Linked DNA regions of Homo sapiens: region 2 is linked to region 1. Evidence: fine-mapped expression QTL. A gene starts in region 1. The other region holds a variant in brackets. All regions are shown on one strand. Distances are from middle to middle.

Region 1 (8,336 bases):
GAGATTCTCCTGCCTCAGCCTCCCGAGTAGCTGGGATTACAAGAGTGCGCCACCACGCCTGGCTAATTTTTGTATTTTTAGAGAGATGGGGTTTCACCGTGTTGGTCAGGCTGGTCTTGAACTCCTGACCTCGTGCTCCGCCTGCCTTGGCCTCCCAAAGTACTGGGATTACAGGCATGAGCCACCGTGCTAGGCCGAAAGTACTGTATCTTTAAGCGTACTTATAATAAATTGTGAAGAGCTGAAGCAGCAGGATTGGTTAAAAGCAAGGGACACATGATATATTAGAGGAAAGTCAGAGAAACACAGAAAGGCAAGCTGGGAGGAATGGCAGTGAAGAAACAAGCAGAGCAAAAGGAAAGGAGATTGGGATGAAAAATACACGTGGGCGATCAGGCTGAGGATCTTGCTGACTCCAAGTTCGGCAGGGAAGAGACCAAAGTATATATGAGTAACCACTTAGAAACTCTGGAGATTATGTCACAACACATGGTCTAATGTTTAAAAACTTCTTACTTTTTGTATCTCAGAGGTTGGAGGGCCTTTAAAATAATTCATTGCTTCATGGTTTAATTTTTTAGTCTGGCATCAACAAAATGATTTTCCCTGAGTCGTGCTATTATGGCCTAAAGTTTAGTATGCATTAGCATGATAGCGACAAGGCCATTAGACACTCTGTCTCATTATGGAATGACTGTGGACAATAACGAATCCATAAAGTACTGTGCCACCATTCAATATTCCAAATATAACTCCAAAGTCCATCTCTTGGGAGAAAGAGTATCATGTTAGGGAACAAAGGGGAGGGGGTAAGTGAATGTTGACCTAAACAGCTATCCAATAATTATTTTGCCTTTCCATAAACAAAATAAACACCTGCTGTTTAGCAAAGGGATTTTGTTAGCTTAATGCCAACAAAAAGAGATTTTTTGTATTATTGAAGACTACTAACTAAAATGCATATACAAATACCAGCTTTTCTTCAGACCATATTCAGTTATGTGGTTATCATCTTCCAAACTGACCATTTAATTGGACCAGTCCAAAAGTTATTAAGTTTAGACCACATATAAGATCTTGTTCTCTTCCTCCTACCTGGATGGCCAAGCATATGCTAATCTAAAAACCTGGAAGTGATACATTTATTCAACAGACATTTACTGAGTGGCTACTAAATGTCAGTCGCTGTTCTGGGTGATACAGCTACATTAATGAATAAAACAGAGAGAATGTCTGTCCTTGTGTAGCTTACTTTCCAGTAGGAGAAGACACACAACATTAAGTCAATTATATACAAGATTACAAGAAGATAGGTGCTATAGAGAAAGATAAAGCTGGGAAGCATATCATACTTTTCAATAGGGTAGTCAGAGTAGACTCTCTGAGATGTTTGAAGGAGGTAAGGGAATTAGTCACGCAGATACCTGATAGAAGAGTGCTCCAGGCATTGTGCAAAGGCCTTGAGGAAGGAACCTGCCTGGTCTGAGAAACACCAGGATGCCAGCGGGACTGCCGGTAAAATAAAGAAGGGAAAGAGTAGCAGGAGACTCCATAGGGCCTTATAAGCCAGTTCAGGGATTCAGGCCTTAACTCTGAGATGGAAAATCATCAGAAAGTTTTGGTCAAAGAGATGATATGATCTAAATTACATTTTTAAAGGATCAGTCCCTGGCTACTGTGTGGAGAGAAGACTGAAGAGGTACAAGGATGATGTAGGGAGACCAGATAGGAGTTACAACAATAGTTCAGGTAGACATCATGGTGGCTTGGATGAGGATTGTAGCAGCAGGAGTAGTGAGAAGTAGTGGATTCTGAACATAATTTGAAGACAGAACAGGATTTGCTGAATACCTGAATATGGGATGTGAGAGGAAGAGTAGAAATAGGGATGACACCAAGGTTTCTTGGTCTTAGGAGTTAAAATGGTAAAGTTGCCATTAACTGTGATGGGTATATTTGAGCTGTCTATTGAAATCCAAGTGGAGAAGTCAAGTAGGTAGTTGGACATTTAAGTCTGGAGTTCAGGGAAGAGGTTCAGGGTAGAAATATAAATTTGGAAATTGTCAAAATTTTGACGGTATTTAAAGCCATGAGACAGAATGAGCTCTTCAAGGGAAAGCATGCAGACAGAAAGAGGCACGATGACTATGCGTTGGAATACACCATGATTAAGAGGTAAGGGAGGTGAAGCAAAAGCAGAAAGGAGATTGAGGGGTAACAGCCAGTGAAGTAAGAAGACAATAAGAAGAGCACTGAATCCTGGGAAGCGCACACAGCATTTCAAGGAGGAGGAAGTAATGAGGTAAAATGCTGCTGATCATTAACTGAGAATCGACTACTGGATTTAGCAAAGTGGAAGTGGTGATCTTAACAAGAACAGTTTCTAATGAAATGCGGGTGGGAATGTGACTAAAGCAGGTTCAAGAGAAACTAGGAAAGGAAATAGACAGTACAAACATATCTTAGAAGGTCTGCTTTCTAATTAAGAAGAAAAAGAGCAGAAGCTAAAGGGGGAAGTGGCAGCAAGTGTATTTTGTTGGTGGTGTTGGTTTTTTTTTTTTTTTTGATGGAAGAAGTAACAGTATGCATGCTGGTGGGAATGATCCAGCAGAAGGCAGAAGAAGACAGTACAGTAAAGAAATAACAAATGCTAGTATTGGGTTTATGTTGTTGCAAACCTGGTGGAAGTTCTCTTCTGTTTTCGCAGTGGCTCATGCCTGTAACCCCAGCACTTTGGGAGGCCGAGGTGGGTGGATCATTTGAGGTCAGTTCAAGACCAGCCTGGTCAACATGGTGAAACCTGGTCTCTACTAAAAATACAAAAATTAGCCCGGCGTGGTGGTGCAGGCCTGTAATCCCAGCTACTTGGGAGGCTGAGGCAGGAGAATTGCTTGAACTTGGGAGGCAGAGGTTTTAGTGAGCTGAGAGTGCCCCACTGCACTCCAGCCTGGGTGACAGAGGGAAACTCTATCTCAAAAAGAAAGAAAGAAAGAAAAAAAAAACCGAAATAAGATTGCCAGAAATCATGAAAGGCCTATATGAGGTTAATCGTCACAAATTTGTTTTTCCCCAGCAACGTACTGCTGCATGGGTACAGGGACAAGACCAGGCAATATGTTGGATTTAACAAGGGTTGACATTTTGACAAAAGAGGGAAAGTACTTGAGAGAGGAACAGGAAATTGAGGTTGTATGCATCAGAACGTTATGTGGTTGGCAGATTATACAGGTATACACTCAGTTTGTCAATTCTCTTGTATATTACTACAGACCATAATTTACTAAAGAGATTAGAAAATCACAAGATCTGAAATGGGACAAAAATGTACTGTCTATTCTGTGACAGGTTCTTTGCTAATTAATACCCCCAAAGAACCTCCAACTTTGTAGACTCTTTAAACATAAGATTATTCTCTCTGCCGTAAAATAAAGAAGGGAAAGAGTAGCAGGAGACTCCATAGGGCCTTATAAGCCAGTTCAGGGATTCGGGCCTTAACTCTGAGATGGAAAATCATCAGAAAGTTCAAGGTATTCTACGAACACCTTGAAATGAGAATTTTTACTTCCTCACTTTTGGGTTTTGTACCACCAACGTCTAGCATAGTGCTTTGTACACCGTAGACATCCAATAACGACAATTGATGAAACCTTTAAAAAGCATCGTAGGTGAATTCAACATGGGTTGTGGAGGGTAAGGATGGTACCATCTCTCTGTCAAAGGGAGAAGAGCTAGAAGGAAGTAGCTTTGGCATGAACCAAAATGTCAACCTAATTGATCTTTAAATTTCTCTGCAAAATGCCCACATCTACCTCTGTCTGTCGGTCCGGTCCGTTCGCCGGCTTAGGTCATATCACCCAAATATGCCCCAGTATGAGAAAAGCGCTGTCGGGTAGCTGAGTTCTCTATCAGTACAGATATTCATGCAAAGATCCCGGGCGGGAATGTCAACTACCGAACTAAAGACTGTATCAGAGGACCCTGCTCCTCGCGGTCCCCAAATCCCGCCGCGCCATTTTCTTCTCAAGGGCACCCCACACCTGACAACTCACACAGATGGTTATCTTCAGCACACCGTGGTTATAGTCTCGGTACAACTCTTTGGCCTCCTGGTTGCATTCGATGCACCTGTACTGGCAGGAGGCCGAGGCAGCAGTAGGAGTCGCTGCCACCCCATCCACGTTCCCCTTCCCCTGCTGCAGGCCGCTCCGCCCGCCGTTGCCCATTTCCACTCAACTGCAGTCCAGAACTTCCGATTCTGTGGAGGGTAAGACGTCAGACGCCAGACCGGAAGACTTGCGCCGCGCGGGCTTATTGGGATTCGTAGTCCCGGCACCGGCAAGGCGGCCCCGGGCTGGCCGAGCTGGGACTACCATTCCCAGCACACAATGCTTCTCCCCTTGTCCCGCCCCCTTGCCACGGTCCACCTGCCCGCCGTAGGTTAGAGGCGGGGAGGCCTGAGAGCCGGGCAAGGGCTGTCGCGCATGCGCCTTGAGGGAAGATGGCACCTGCCGGCTGCTGCTGCTGCTGCTGCTTCTGGGGCGGCGCTGTGGCCGCCGCGGGCGCCGCCCGGCGTGTCCTGCTGCTGCTGCTGCTGGGGGTCCTGTCCGCCGGGCTGCGGCCAGGCGCCCTGGCCACCGAGCACTACTCGCCGCTCTCCCTGCTCAAGCAGGAGCTGCAGCACCGGCAGCAGCAGGAGGCCCCGGCGGGCGGCGGCGGCTGCAGCCCGCAGTCCGGGGACTGGGGGGACCAGTACTCTGCCGAGTGCGGCGGTGAGTGGGCGGCGGCGGGCGTCCGAGTCGGCCGGGGCGGCGGGGCAGCGGGGCTGGGGTCCCGGGCCGGGGTACGGGTCGCCCGGGCCTCACGCCTCCGGCTGCGGCGCGCGATCCGCGGGAGCCGGCTCGGCCAGGGGTCCTGGCGGGCAGCTTCCCGCCGCTGCCACCCACGCCGCCGCGCGCCCTCCTGCAGCCGCCTTTGGGCAGGGCGGCGAGTCGAGAAATGAGCTGACAGCATGCTCCTGGGGCCAGGGCGGCCTCTCTCCTGAGTCTGAAGCAACTGTTGGAAGGGTGGCGGAGGAGATGGCAGGTGGCCCGGGGCAGCCCTGTTCCCGCCGCCGGCCTCCCGAGGATGCCGAAGGGGCGAGGGAGGGGCGGGCGGACGAGCAACCAGCCCGGCGGCTTGCGGAGCCCGCCCCCGGAGGGAGACGCCTGGCACATCTTAGGCCTGGAAATCAGGCTTCCTGACCTCCCGGGTTAATGTCTCGTATACAACAGTTCCTAAAAATTGGATCCCTGGAATGGAAAAAAAGAGCAAGCCCATCTTATCTGCTCGTTGACATCTTGCTTCCAGTTGTTTAAGATCAACCTGCGATCTGTCAGGTGTCTCCCAGAGGGAAAAAAGGCCCCTGCAGGCCTTGAGCCTGTGTGTCAGTGCCGTGTGTGTATTGGAGCTACGCCAGCTCATTCATTAAGAATGGGCGCTATTGGCTTCAGTTTAATAAATCATAGCAGATGCCTCTGGGACAAAATACGTGTGTACATTTTTTTGTTTTGAAGTTCTGTCGTGGGTCTTTTTACCCATCAATCTCCTCCCTTTCTCTTTCCCCCTTCTCTATGTGAGTTCCCTTATGGCTTGCTTTGGGAAGGACCGGGGTCTACCGAACCCACTGGGAGATGGTTGCTTTTAAGACTTGGCAGTGGTTTTCTTCGGCATTGTGTACCTGGGAAAACAATACCTTTTTTTTTTAGTTGAGATGAGACGTCAAGATTAGCACAATCTGATTTCCTTTTAGTACAGTCTGACTTCCTTGAGGAAGTGTCACTCACTGAGAGGTTTGTGACTTTTTTATTTTGCGGTAGGCCTTAGCTGGTAACGGCGTAAGTAACACGGCCAGCCTTGCACGGTGGAGAAAGAATGGCATTTACTTACCTCTGTCACTTTCTGTATCTCTGAGCAAGTGAATTACCTGTCTTTGTAAAATGCCTCCTCTGTAAGTGGAAAACACTGTTCACCTAATTGTGGGGTTTTATTTTCCTCACGAGGGTGCTGTGAGGGAAATGAGAAGTAGCCGACATATATTGAGTGCTTGCTGTATGCCAGGTGCTGTTATAAGTGCTTTAGGTCTATGAGCCTAGTATATTAGTCTATCAGAAAAACAATAACCACCTCATTAGATGGTGGCTCATTTTCTCAGATGAACAAACTGAAACATAGTGAAATTGTCATCTTCTTGAGATCCCACAGCTGCCAAAGGAGGAACCCATGAAGTCGGGCTCCAGACAAAGCCTTTGTCCTAACCATTAAGTGGTTGTAGGTAGGCAAACCACATCTGAAGTATTTACTTGCATATGGTGCATGTTGGGTAAATTTCCCTTTCTCCTTTGCTCATGTGGTGCTCACTGGCTAAAGGAGCCCCAGCGTTTAGACAGTAGAAGGTATGTATCGATTAATACTATGATATCTATTGGTATCATTGATGTTGGTGGCTTATTTGATTCTTTGGCATCAGGCTAACCACCAGTATTTAAGAACCCTGTTCAAGCCAGCTCTGACTTGTATTACGATATTTCCCTGGAGGATGAACACTGTATCATGAAGCTGTAAACATAATTTATTTAGATGTTTCTACCTTCTTTTTCTCTCTCCCATGTAGTACTTATTTTTTCTAGCTTGGAATTTAAAATTTACTGTTGCAAATGAACGACCTGAGTCTTTCAGATCACCTCCCCTGGCTGTGTGAGTAGCTACCAACAGGTGCTAAAGTGGGGCAGCTGCCGCTGTGGTCACCCAAGAAGTCATTTCCAGAATCAACTACTTGGAGCTCCAGCTGTTTCCCTCAGCTTTCCTGGCTGCAGTATGCGACAAAAGCCAACTCTGTTGTTGTAGGGGCTACTGAAATACTTCTCATTTCTCCCTCTTCGCCCTGGACAACTATGTAGAAGCTGGACCCTATGAAACCTGTTTCATTTCTTCTCTGTCCTAGGATGTGGGGATGAATTCGGGATTTACAACTAACCGTGCCATAGCCTGAGGGGCAGCTGATGCTCTGTATCCGGAGACCCATTTGAGCAACATTAGGGTCTAGACAAATGTCAGGATCCAGAACTAGTCAGTTCTTCAGAATCATACAGACTTGGCTTTACTAAGCATTGATCATGCCATCGTCTCTTGCTTGCCTGTCCAGCCACAAACCTGTTCATATCAATCCAGCACATATACTGAGGACAAACACAGCAGCACAACCACTTTTCAGAATCTTTCCCACAGCTTTCAGGTTCAAATGGCTGAGCTGATGCCTGCTTGGGTCTAAATTTAAATCTGCATACCTTCTTACAAGCAGTATATGTATTCCCTTGAGACAGAACCGCCAGTGATTGTACATACAAGGACAGTGGCTGGTGGGAGCCCACCAATCCAAAGACAACACACTAGCAATGGCTGGCCCAGCTATGCACACCACCGTCACATGGCATCCATGTCCCAGGGAACAGCCTAATGCTCAGTGGGCTGAGCCCCACCCAGATCTACTGCAGAAGTGACAGGCATGGATGTCCCTCTGGTGCCATATGTCTCAGCTTGAGCTTTGCATGTTTCCTGATCCGCCCTTAATATTTTCTACTCCACATTTTTACATTTTACCTTTTTGATATTTTATTTATTTTTACCTTTTTACTTGAAAAGCATATAACCACAAACTTGTCTTCTCTCTTTGTTTACTTGTAGAGAAAAAATATTATTTTAAAAAAATGAACACTGTATTGTACATATTTTAAAAATAAAAGTAAATTTCCTGTTGCCAAAGCCCTATCTTTAATTTGTAACTGTCGGAGGAAATGATGAACAGAAGTATTTTTCCAATTCTTTCCTCACTTTTTTAGTTATATTGTCATAAACACTCTGCAATCTTTTTTAATCCTTTTGATACTGAAGTAGGTGCTGTTGTTTTTTCTATTTTTTTAGAGACAGGGTCTTGCTCTGTTGCCCAGGAGGTAGTTCATTGGTGCTGTCATAGCTCACTGCAGCCTTAAATTCCTGGTTTGAAGCCATCGTCCTGCCTCAGCTTCCCAAGTAGCTAGGACCACAGACGTGTGCCACCATGCCCAGCTATTTTTTTTTTTTTTCTGTAGAGACAAGGTCTGGCTATGTTGCCCAGGCTGGTCAAACTCCTGGACTCAAGCAGTACTTCCACCTCAGCCTCCCAAAGTGTTGGGATTACAGACGTGAGACACCGTGCCTGGCCAATGCTGTTTTTAATCCCCATTTTACAAACTGAGACAGAGAAGTTAAGGTTATACAGTAAAGAGTAGAGCCAGGATTTGAACCTGACCTGACCATTTGTG
Region 2 (8,336 bases), 78 kb after region 1:
TAACTTCCTGGAGTTAACACAGACCCCAGAGGTTAAGGGCTCAGTCTCACAAGACTGCCCCCTTTTCAGATGCCAGTTGCAAGTCAGGGCCTCCTGTACTTCTGACTGATTGGCTATAACTCGGGGGTTCCCATCACACCCTCCCTCCTCATGTTTGATAATTTGCAAGAATGGCTCACACAATTCAGGGACACCCTTTACTTACTATTACTGATTTGTTATATCGGATACACATGAACAGCCAAATGGAAGAGGTGCACAGGGCAAGGTATGGGGGGGCAGCATGGAGCTTCCGTGCGCTCTCCAGGCCCACCACCGTCCCCCCACCTGGAAGTGTTCACCAACCAAAAACCCCCAAACCTTTTCACTTAGGGTTTTTATGGGGGTTCCATTGCATAGGCATGGTTGATTAAATCATTGCCAATTAGGTCAATTCTCAGCCCCTCTTTTCTCTCTGGAGGCTGGGGGTTAGGACTGAAAGTTCCTCTAATCACATGGTTAGTTTCTCTGGCCCCCAACCCCCATCCTCCAAGAGTCATCTCATCAGCATAAATTCAGATATGGTTGGAAGGTGCTTATTAATAACAAAAAACACTTCTCATCCCGATCACTCAGAAAATACCAAGAGTTTTACGAGCTCTGTGCCAGGAACTGGAGGGCAGAGATCAGATATAGCTTTCTTATTACCTCGGTATCACAGTTCTATCGATAAAATTGCTCCTGTGGATCAAGATGTTCAGACTTTTAAAAAACTAACTTTAAAGGCCGGGCGCGGTGGCTCACGCCTGTAATCCCAGCACTTTGGGAGGCCGAGGCGGGCGGATCACGAGGTAAGGAGATCGAGACCATCCCGGCTAAAACGGTGAAACCCCGTCTGTACTAAAAATACAAAAAAATTAGCCGGGCGTAGTGGCGGGTGCCTGTAGTCCCAGCTACTTGGGAGGCTGAGGCAGGAGAATGGCGTGAACCCGGGAGGCGGAGCTTGCAGTGAGCCGAGATCCCGCCACTGCACTCCAGCCTGGGCGACAGAGCGAGACTCCGCCTCAAAAAAAAAAAAAAAAAAAACTAACTTTAAAAAATCTAGAGCAAAATTTGCTAGTACATTAAGAACTTTAGTGTGGAATTTCTTTGGTATAGAAACTGTATGAGGGACAGGAAACTGACCTCCAACTCTGTGATCATTACTCTCTGATAATTTGGAAATATGGAATAAAATTGATATGCCTCAGAAAGAGAGACCAGCAAAATCACCTAAAGAAACCCACTGTGTCCCAGACCAGCAAAATCTGAGTGTTCATGAATACATCTTAAGATGTCTGTAATGGAGCCCATCATTCCTTCACCCAAAGTCTGTTTCTCCCCACGCTTCTCTGTGTCAGAAATGGTTCCCTTTTCACTCAGCAGCTTCAGCCAGACACCCAGGCAGCCTCCAGAGTCTACACTGCCCTCCTGCAGTTTTCAAATGATCACCATCCAGTCCGATCCTGTTTACCTCTAAGAAGATCCCAGATCCATTCATGTCTTACCATCTCCATTGTTACCCCCAAGCCCAAGCTACTTAAAGCTAAACTAATCAATATTAAACTAAATCGAACGCTTGTTTCTGTCTCCCTAGCTGCCTTTCAAGTGCTCAGTAGCCACATGTGGCTAGCAGCTATCACATTGGACAGAGCAGACATGGGACAGCCCCATCATCACAGAACATCCCACTGAGCAGCACTGCTATCCTGAAAGCAAACACACTGCTATCCCCCCAACCCAACACACTGCGCATCCCGGTGGTCTTAAGCAAGGGTCCAGGAGGTTTTAGGGTCAAAACCACAGTGTTTGGTGGCAGCATGGGGGCACAAATTAGAGAAAGAAAGAAAAAACACTTCTAGACTGGCTTGAAACGTTTCCTTCTGTTTTCTGATCCAAGGTGTCTGTGGTTAGGCCCGGGATCTCCATCTTCACCTAAACCTCACGTGCTTCACACAGAAGTGGTCTGGGAACCACACCTGAGAAACATCAAACTAGAATATCATGAAAACAAGTATGTTCTTGAATATTAGAGCTGTGATTAGATTTACAGTAGCCCTTTTTGCTTCAAACTATGTTCCCATAAATATAGAATCCCTTTAGTTTTATATGTTGTAAACATAAATTTTACCAGTTAAACTAGTCTACAGAAAGTTGGATATACAAAATGAGATCACACTACACTGTGCTTAATTTTTAAAATTTACTTTTTTCAATTAACACATAATGAATTATATGTCAATAAATATATTTGTAACATTTTAAGTTGGATATACACATATATATGTAATTAAGTCTTGAACACAGGCAGCTTAGTTGAACACAACTTGGTTCACAAGCTCCAATAAAGAGTTTAACTTGTGCCCATTCAAGGTGACACAGACGTGCAGTTTTGAATTGCCTTGTTTAAGTTCCCAGCCTCCTTGCCTTCGCCCTTCGGGGGACAGTCTGATTTCCTGAGCCAGGCGTCTTGGCCACCCTCGGGCCTTTGCCCAGATCCTCCGCACTGAGGTTTAGCTCATGCTCCCTGTGCTAGGGCAGCAAGCCTCAGTGGGTACAGCGTCTACTGTTGATTGACCTCTGCCCGCTCGGGTCCGCTGGCCAACAGCGCATGCGCTGCCTCTTCGGCCTCCTCCGGCTGGTCCGCAGACTTCTCTACCTCCAGAGCCCTGGGCTACCGGTACTGAGCGTGCAGAACTCCTGCCATTGTGGAGGCTCCCTGCGGGCCCCCTGCTCTATTCTATGCCACACTGGGCTTGGGCTTGGGCTTCCCTATAAGGCTTGCTGCCACCTCTCGAGGGATGAGGGGTTGCAACCGGATGCTTCTGTCTCCAGGGTTTGGGGCCCTTCGGGAGCTAATGTGTTTTAAGCACTTACTACGGCTGGCATTTTTCTTTCCTTTTTTTTTTTTTTTTTTTTTTTTTAATCCCGAGACAGAGTCTCTCTTTATTGCCCAGACTGGAGTGCGATGGCGCAATCTCGGCTCACTGCAACCTCCGCCTCCCGGGTTCAAGCGATTCTCCTGCCTCAGCCTCCCTAGTTTCTGGGACTTCAGGCGCACGCCACCACGCCCAGCTAATTTTTGTATTTTTAGTAGAGAGGGGGGGGTTTCACCATGTTGGCCAGGATGGTCTCGATCTCCTGACCTCGTGATCCGCCCACCTCGGCCTCCCAAAGTGCTGGGATTACAGGCGTGAGCCACGGCGCCTGGCCAATTTTTTCTAAGTGTTGTACATTGTTTCACTCATTTAATCCTTTGAAGAGGCCTGTGAGATAAGTGCTAGTATTATCCCCACTTAGGTGACAAACGGGCTCAGGTGGGAGAAGTGACTTGCCTGTCATAGCTCTTGAATGTTGCCTAGTGTGTTTGCCATGCGTAGTAAGTCCTCAGTGGAGAGTGGTGGTGGGGCCAGCGGGGATTTGACTGCCGCATTCTTAGCCTTAAACAAATAAGCCCTTCTGTCAAGGAGCTTGATTGCTTTTGGCTGTCTACCAGGTAGAAATGCCACCATATTACTCAAGGGGCTTCCAGCAGTCATCCATCGGGGGCCAGGCGGATTGGCTTGTTGTGTAACACAACTCTAGAGATCATGTCAAAATGATCAGATTTGTCAAGGCTTATGTATAAGCCCAACAAAAACTGGAAATTGTCACTTACTAGGATCAGAATTTAAAATAATACATCTCTGTCCAAAAATAGATTCTGAATCAATGAATCTTTCCATTAGTAGGCTTCTAATGCAAAGTACTAGAACAATTTTTACATGCAAATTAACTCCTTGAATTACCAGTTTGGTATAGAAGTAACTTCTAAAGTGAATGTAGCACTTTCTGTTTCAGGTAAGTACATAAATGTTAACCATCCAGTTTCACAGCTGGATAAAAAAAAAA[AT/T]ACAACATGTAAGAAAAACATGAGTGGGAGAACCAACTAACTCTGATACATGTATACTTGTTTTATACACATGCCTTTTAATGCTCATAGCACTTGAGAGCTAAGGAGTTCTCAGATCATCTAGTCAAGCTCCTGTAATTTGCTGTTGAGGAAGCTGGGACAAAAAGAGGTGAGTAGCTGCCCAGAGGTCACTCAGGTAGTGCCACGGAGCTGGCGGTCAACCTAGGTAAACACCATCATTGAGCGGAATGCACAAAAAAACTTCAGACAGCTCCCCTGCCGGGCCTTCGCTTGTTCAGCCTAAATAGCTCCTTCTGTGGCTCCTCCCACCGCCTCTTCATACTCCTTAAAATGAAATAAATGTTCATAACTAAACATAATAGTCCACATGTGGTCTGTCCCATAAAATATTTTAATTGAAGTACAACATACATACAAAAAATGCACATGTGTGTGCACATTGGTGAATCTTCACAAACCTAACATAACCAGCTTTGAGATCAAGAAACAGAACATTACCAGCACCCCAGAATGTATGTGAACACATGTTTATACATATAAATAAATATACATCACAGATTTCATATAAACACAGCAGACTACAGTAGCTCTCGAAGGCAGCTTCATCACACTATTGACCCAAGTCAACTAAAAATCTCTAACTTCCGTCTTCCCTAGCAGCTGTGTCTGTTTAATAAAGCTTTACCATTTAATCTTTTTGCCTCCACCAAGTGTCATTTAATTAATATTGGTCCATTCTTATAGCTGTTTTCTTTTGTATTATAAAATCTGATTTTCATCCATTATATTATCACCCCATTTATTTTGTGTCAGCCTATAAGTGATTTCTGTTAAGATTAATCCAATAAGAAAAATCACCTTATCTCAGGCTTACTCCAGCCTTTACACCTCCAATTTTTTTCCAGAAACACTCCTATCATTATAACAATTAATATTATATTTCTGTTTGTGATTTTAAAAATTATCATCTATGAACACTTGTATTTTAAGAGCCTTAGAAGTAAAATCTTGACTTTGTAATCCTTTTATTACAAGAACATTTTCATTAAAATAATCTTCATTCTTCTGTTCCTATGCAACTTGACCCTTCTTCTTTCCCTTTCTGTATCTGTTAGGTTTCTTCTTGCTCTCCCTTCAGGGCAGCGTTAACCAATACTCTGATTTTGGTAATGTGTGTGGGTAGGAGCACAGCTCTGGCCCTCTGAGTGAGATGCTAGCTTGACCACTGAGCAGCCTGGTTTTGTGCTCCACATCCTTGGGAGACCAATAATACTGAAATTACATGCTGGCACATTCCTTCCAAAAATTACTTGAGCAATCGAAATGCCTTAGATAAGAGGGGAAAAAACTATTTTGTCAAATTCTTCCCTTCGGATAGTATAAATGCACTGGATTCTTACATAGTGACGTGCCTTTTTCCAGTAGTCTAGATTGTTTTTTTCTTTGCTTTGTTTCAATTCAGGAGGTTCGCATGAATTAGCATGGCCTATGTGACAGTTGCACGTGGTAACTTAAGATATGCAGGTCTAGCCACAACAGGTAAAGCATGATGCCAGTTCTTTACACTGGTAACCAGATGGACATCGAATGCTAGAATTGCAAATAATTTTTATATTTAAAATTGCAATTATATTTTTAAAATAAAATTTAGCTTTAAAGGTTTGAGTTTTAATTTAATATTTGTAAATTATAATCCACACACTGCCTTTAATTTTAATAGATCATATTGAACACTTTAAAAGTAAAAATTTTTTTAAAAATCAAGTTTAAAAATGTTTACATTTATTTAAATTTTTAAAAAATATATTCAGATTTGGTATATTTTTACTACAATTACATCTTTTTAAAAATTCTTTTTAATCCATAACTCATGATAGAGCACAAATTCAGTAAAAATCTTGAATATAACCACATTAGTGATTTTGCTGAAATGAAGGCAAGAATGATACATTTTAAGGAATTAATGTGATTTTTGAATCATGCATATCTTTATTACTCTGGCTGATGTCAGAGCCTATTGAGAACACCAAATGTGTAATAATGATTAAATGCACTGGTCTTAGGCATTTTGCAAACTTTTGAATATGTTAAACCTGTAGCTTTACACATGTTCCATATCCATTTTTTTTTTCTCATGAAGATACATTTATTAAGGTAGGAAGACAGGATATGTTTTATTTGACAATGGATTTATAACTTCCAAGTCTTTAGATACGTGATAGGTGGGTCCGTTTATATTCTGGCCCTGGACCCTCAAAATGTTTCAGCTGTGCTGGAAGCGGGCTCTATCTCTCCTTTCTGCTCCTCTCTCCATCTGCAAACCTGTTCTCCCAACGTGGTGGGTGCAGGGCTACTACCAGTGTTCAGCTTTGCATCGGCGACCCAAAGACAGCCCATCCTTCGCAGCTGTAGTCCCAGAATCCCAGGGAAAGGACTCGTGATTGGGCCAGGTTAGGTCAGGTGACCACTTGGACCAATCCAGAGTGCCATAGGGTAGACGCATACGATACCCTTGGTTAAATCATAAAAGGGATGGTGATTTCTAGACTAACCATCCCTTCACTGTATATTATACTTTGACAGAATGTAATTCCTTTATTTGAACAGACCTCTCTTTTAGTGGTTTCAAGTCATGCATTCACTTAATGTTTCTTTTCTTATTGTACATAATTTCCAGAGCTAAAACTTTCCAAACCTAGGTTACAAGGAAGACAGTCCTATACCCCAATTTGCCTGATTTATGCCTGCTGTCCCATTGTAATTATTAATAGTGCCACTTTCCATTCAAAAGTATCCTGGTTTGGATAATCATTCTTATGATGCCCCTGACTGTAAGTGAAAGTTGGTGAGTGTGAAAGTTCACTTATATCCCTGTTTGGTCTACATGGCGCCTTCCTCCCAGTCCCAGCCATCATTTGGACCCAGCAACTACTAGAGGCCAAGCTGTGTCCTAGATGTTGGAGATATAGTTGAGTAAGACAGTAACCCTTTCCAGAAGGAACTCACAGTCCTAACAGGGGAAATTGTACAAATTAGGTCATGATACAGCCTAAGAAATCTGGGTAGGAACAGAAGAGCAGGGAGTGGCTCTGCCTGGGGAGACTGGGAAAGACCGCAGAGAGGATGCAACATTGGACCGGGTGACGTGAACTTCCCAATTGCTGACTTTGGCATATTAGAATATACCTCTTATTTTTATTAGCTACATAATCCAAGGCTAAGATGTTTGTTATTCATAAAGCCCACAGATGATTACTGACTTGGGAGAATCCCATCAGAGATGCCTTTATGACAATGAAATCAGGCCACTTCATCCCCAGGGTGAGTCTTGGAGTAGGCGTCTCAGGTGTGCATGCAGGTATCAGAAGAAAAGAGGGGGAAGTGCTTGTGCTATATGTGAACACCAGAACATCCTCAAGTCCCTGGCAGAGGGAACTGCAGGATTCCAGAGTCAGGACTCCCTGATGCTCTAGAAGGAGCTGGAGTAATGACCAGCTGTAGAGTATTCAGTCAGGACACGTGGGCTCCAAAACCAACACTGCTGCCTACCCCCAAGCAAAGGATTTAATCTCTCTGGCCTTACTTTACCTGGAAAAGGAAAGCGTGAAACTAAGTCATCTACAGTGTTTTATCCAGCTTTACAGTTTTGATATGTTGTATAGTGGGCCAATTACAAATTCTTAAGTTTTCTCTAACTGATTAGCCAATTTGAGAAGATTCAGAAAAACCACAGTTCATTTAAAATAGTTTTTCCTTTTTCATGCTTTTGATATAACCACAGAGGCTTTTATACTGATAAAGACTTGTCAAAGGATCTCTGCATTTTGAATCCAGTGTGGGAGATGTAGGGATAATTAGAGAAACCAGCCAAGGAACGCTGGCCAGTACAGGTGCAGTGGCTCATCCCTGTAATCCCAGCAATTTGGGAGGCCGAGGTGGGAAGATTGTTTGGGCCCAGGAGTTCAAGAGCAGCCTGGGCAGTACAGCAAGACCCTGTTGCTACAAAAAATTAAAAAATTAGCCAGGCATGGTGGTGCACGCCTGTAGTCCTGGCTACTTGGGAGGCTGAGGTGGGAGGATCACTTGAGCTCAGGAGTTCGAGGTTGCCATGAGTTGTGGTCATGCCACTGCACTCCAACCTGTGCGACAGAGCAAGATCATGTCTCAAAGCCAACAAACAAACACATAAAAACTGGCCAGTGGAATAATACAGTTTCTGGCTCTTGCTTTCCCCATACCAGACTGTCTTGGTCACGAGAGCTGAAATAATTTCATAATGTAAACTTTGCTGTTTTTTCCTGCCTCTTTAGAGTAAAAAAGCAAAACTCAGAAGCACTCTCAGGAAAGCTTTTCAAATTCTTTTTTGTTCTCTGGCTCCCAGTGACAAATACTTACTCTGTCTTTA

What was found.
Region 2: its variant is fine-mapped to the expression of TTC13 in whole blood (INTERVAL, PIP above 0.99). The same link has a PIP of 0.9 or more in lung.

What each region holds. Positions count from the first base shown.
Region 1 is chr1:230,974,993-230,983,328 of GRCh38, reverse strand. TTC13 (tetratricopeptide repeat domain 13) reads left to right here and starts at 4,468. Exons shown (of 23, transcript NM_024525.5): 1 at 4,468-4,769. The coding sequence starts at 4,499. It overlaps ARV1 (ARV1 fatty acid homeostasis modulator), which reads right to left and starts at 4,235. Exons shown (of 6, transcript NM_022786.3): 1 at 4,050-4,235. The coding sequence starts at 4,223. RefSeq lists an enhancer at 4,004-4,303 and silencers at 4,584-4,843, 4,864-5,153.
Region 2 is chr1:230,896,994-230,905,329 of GRCh38, reverse strand. It overlaps LOC105373167 (a long non-coding RNA gene), which reads right to left. Exons shown (of 4, transcript XR_949264.3): 4 at 7,109-7,519. Among named protein-coding and RNA genes, the nearest start is that of C1orf198, 33 kb to the right of the region's middle. RefSeq lists an enhancer at 2,656-3,157. The variant AT/T (reference allele first, on the strand shown) is at 3,910.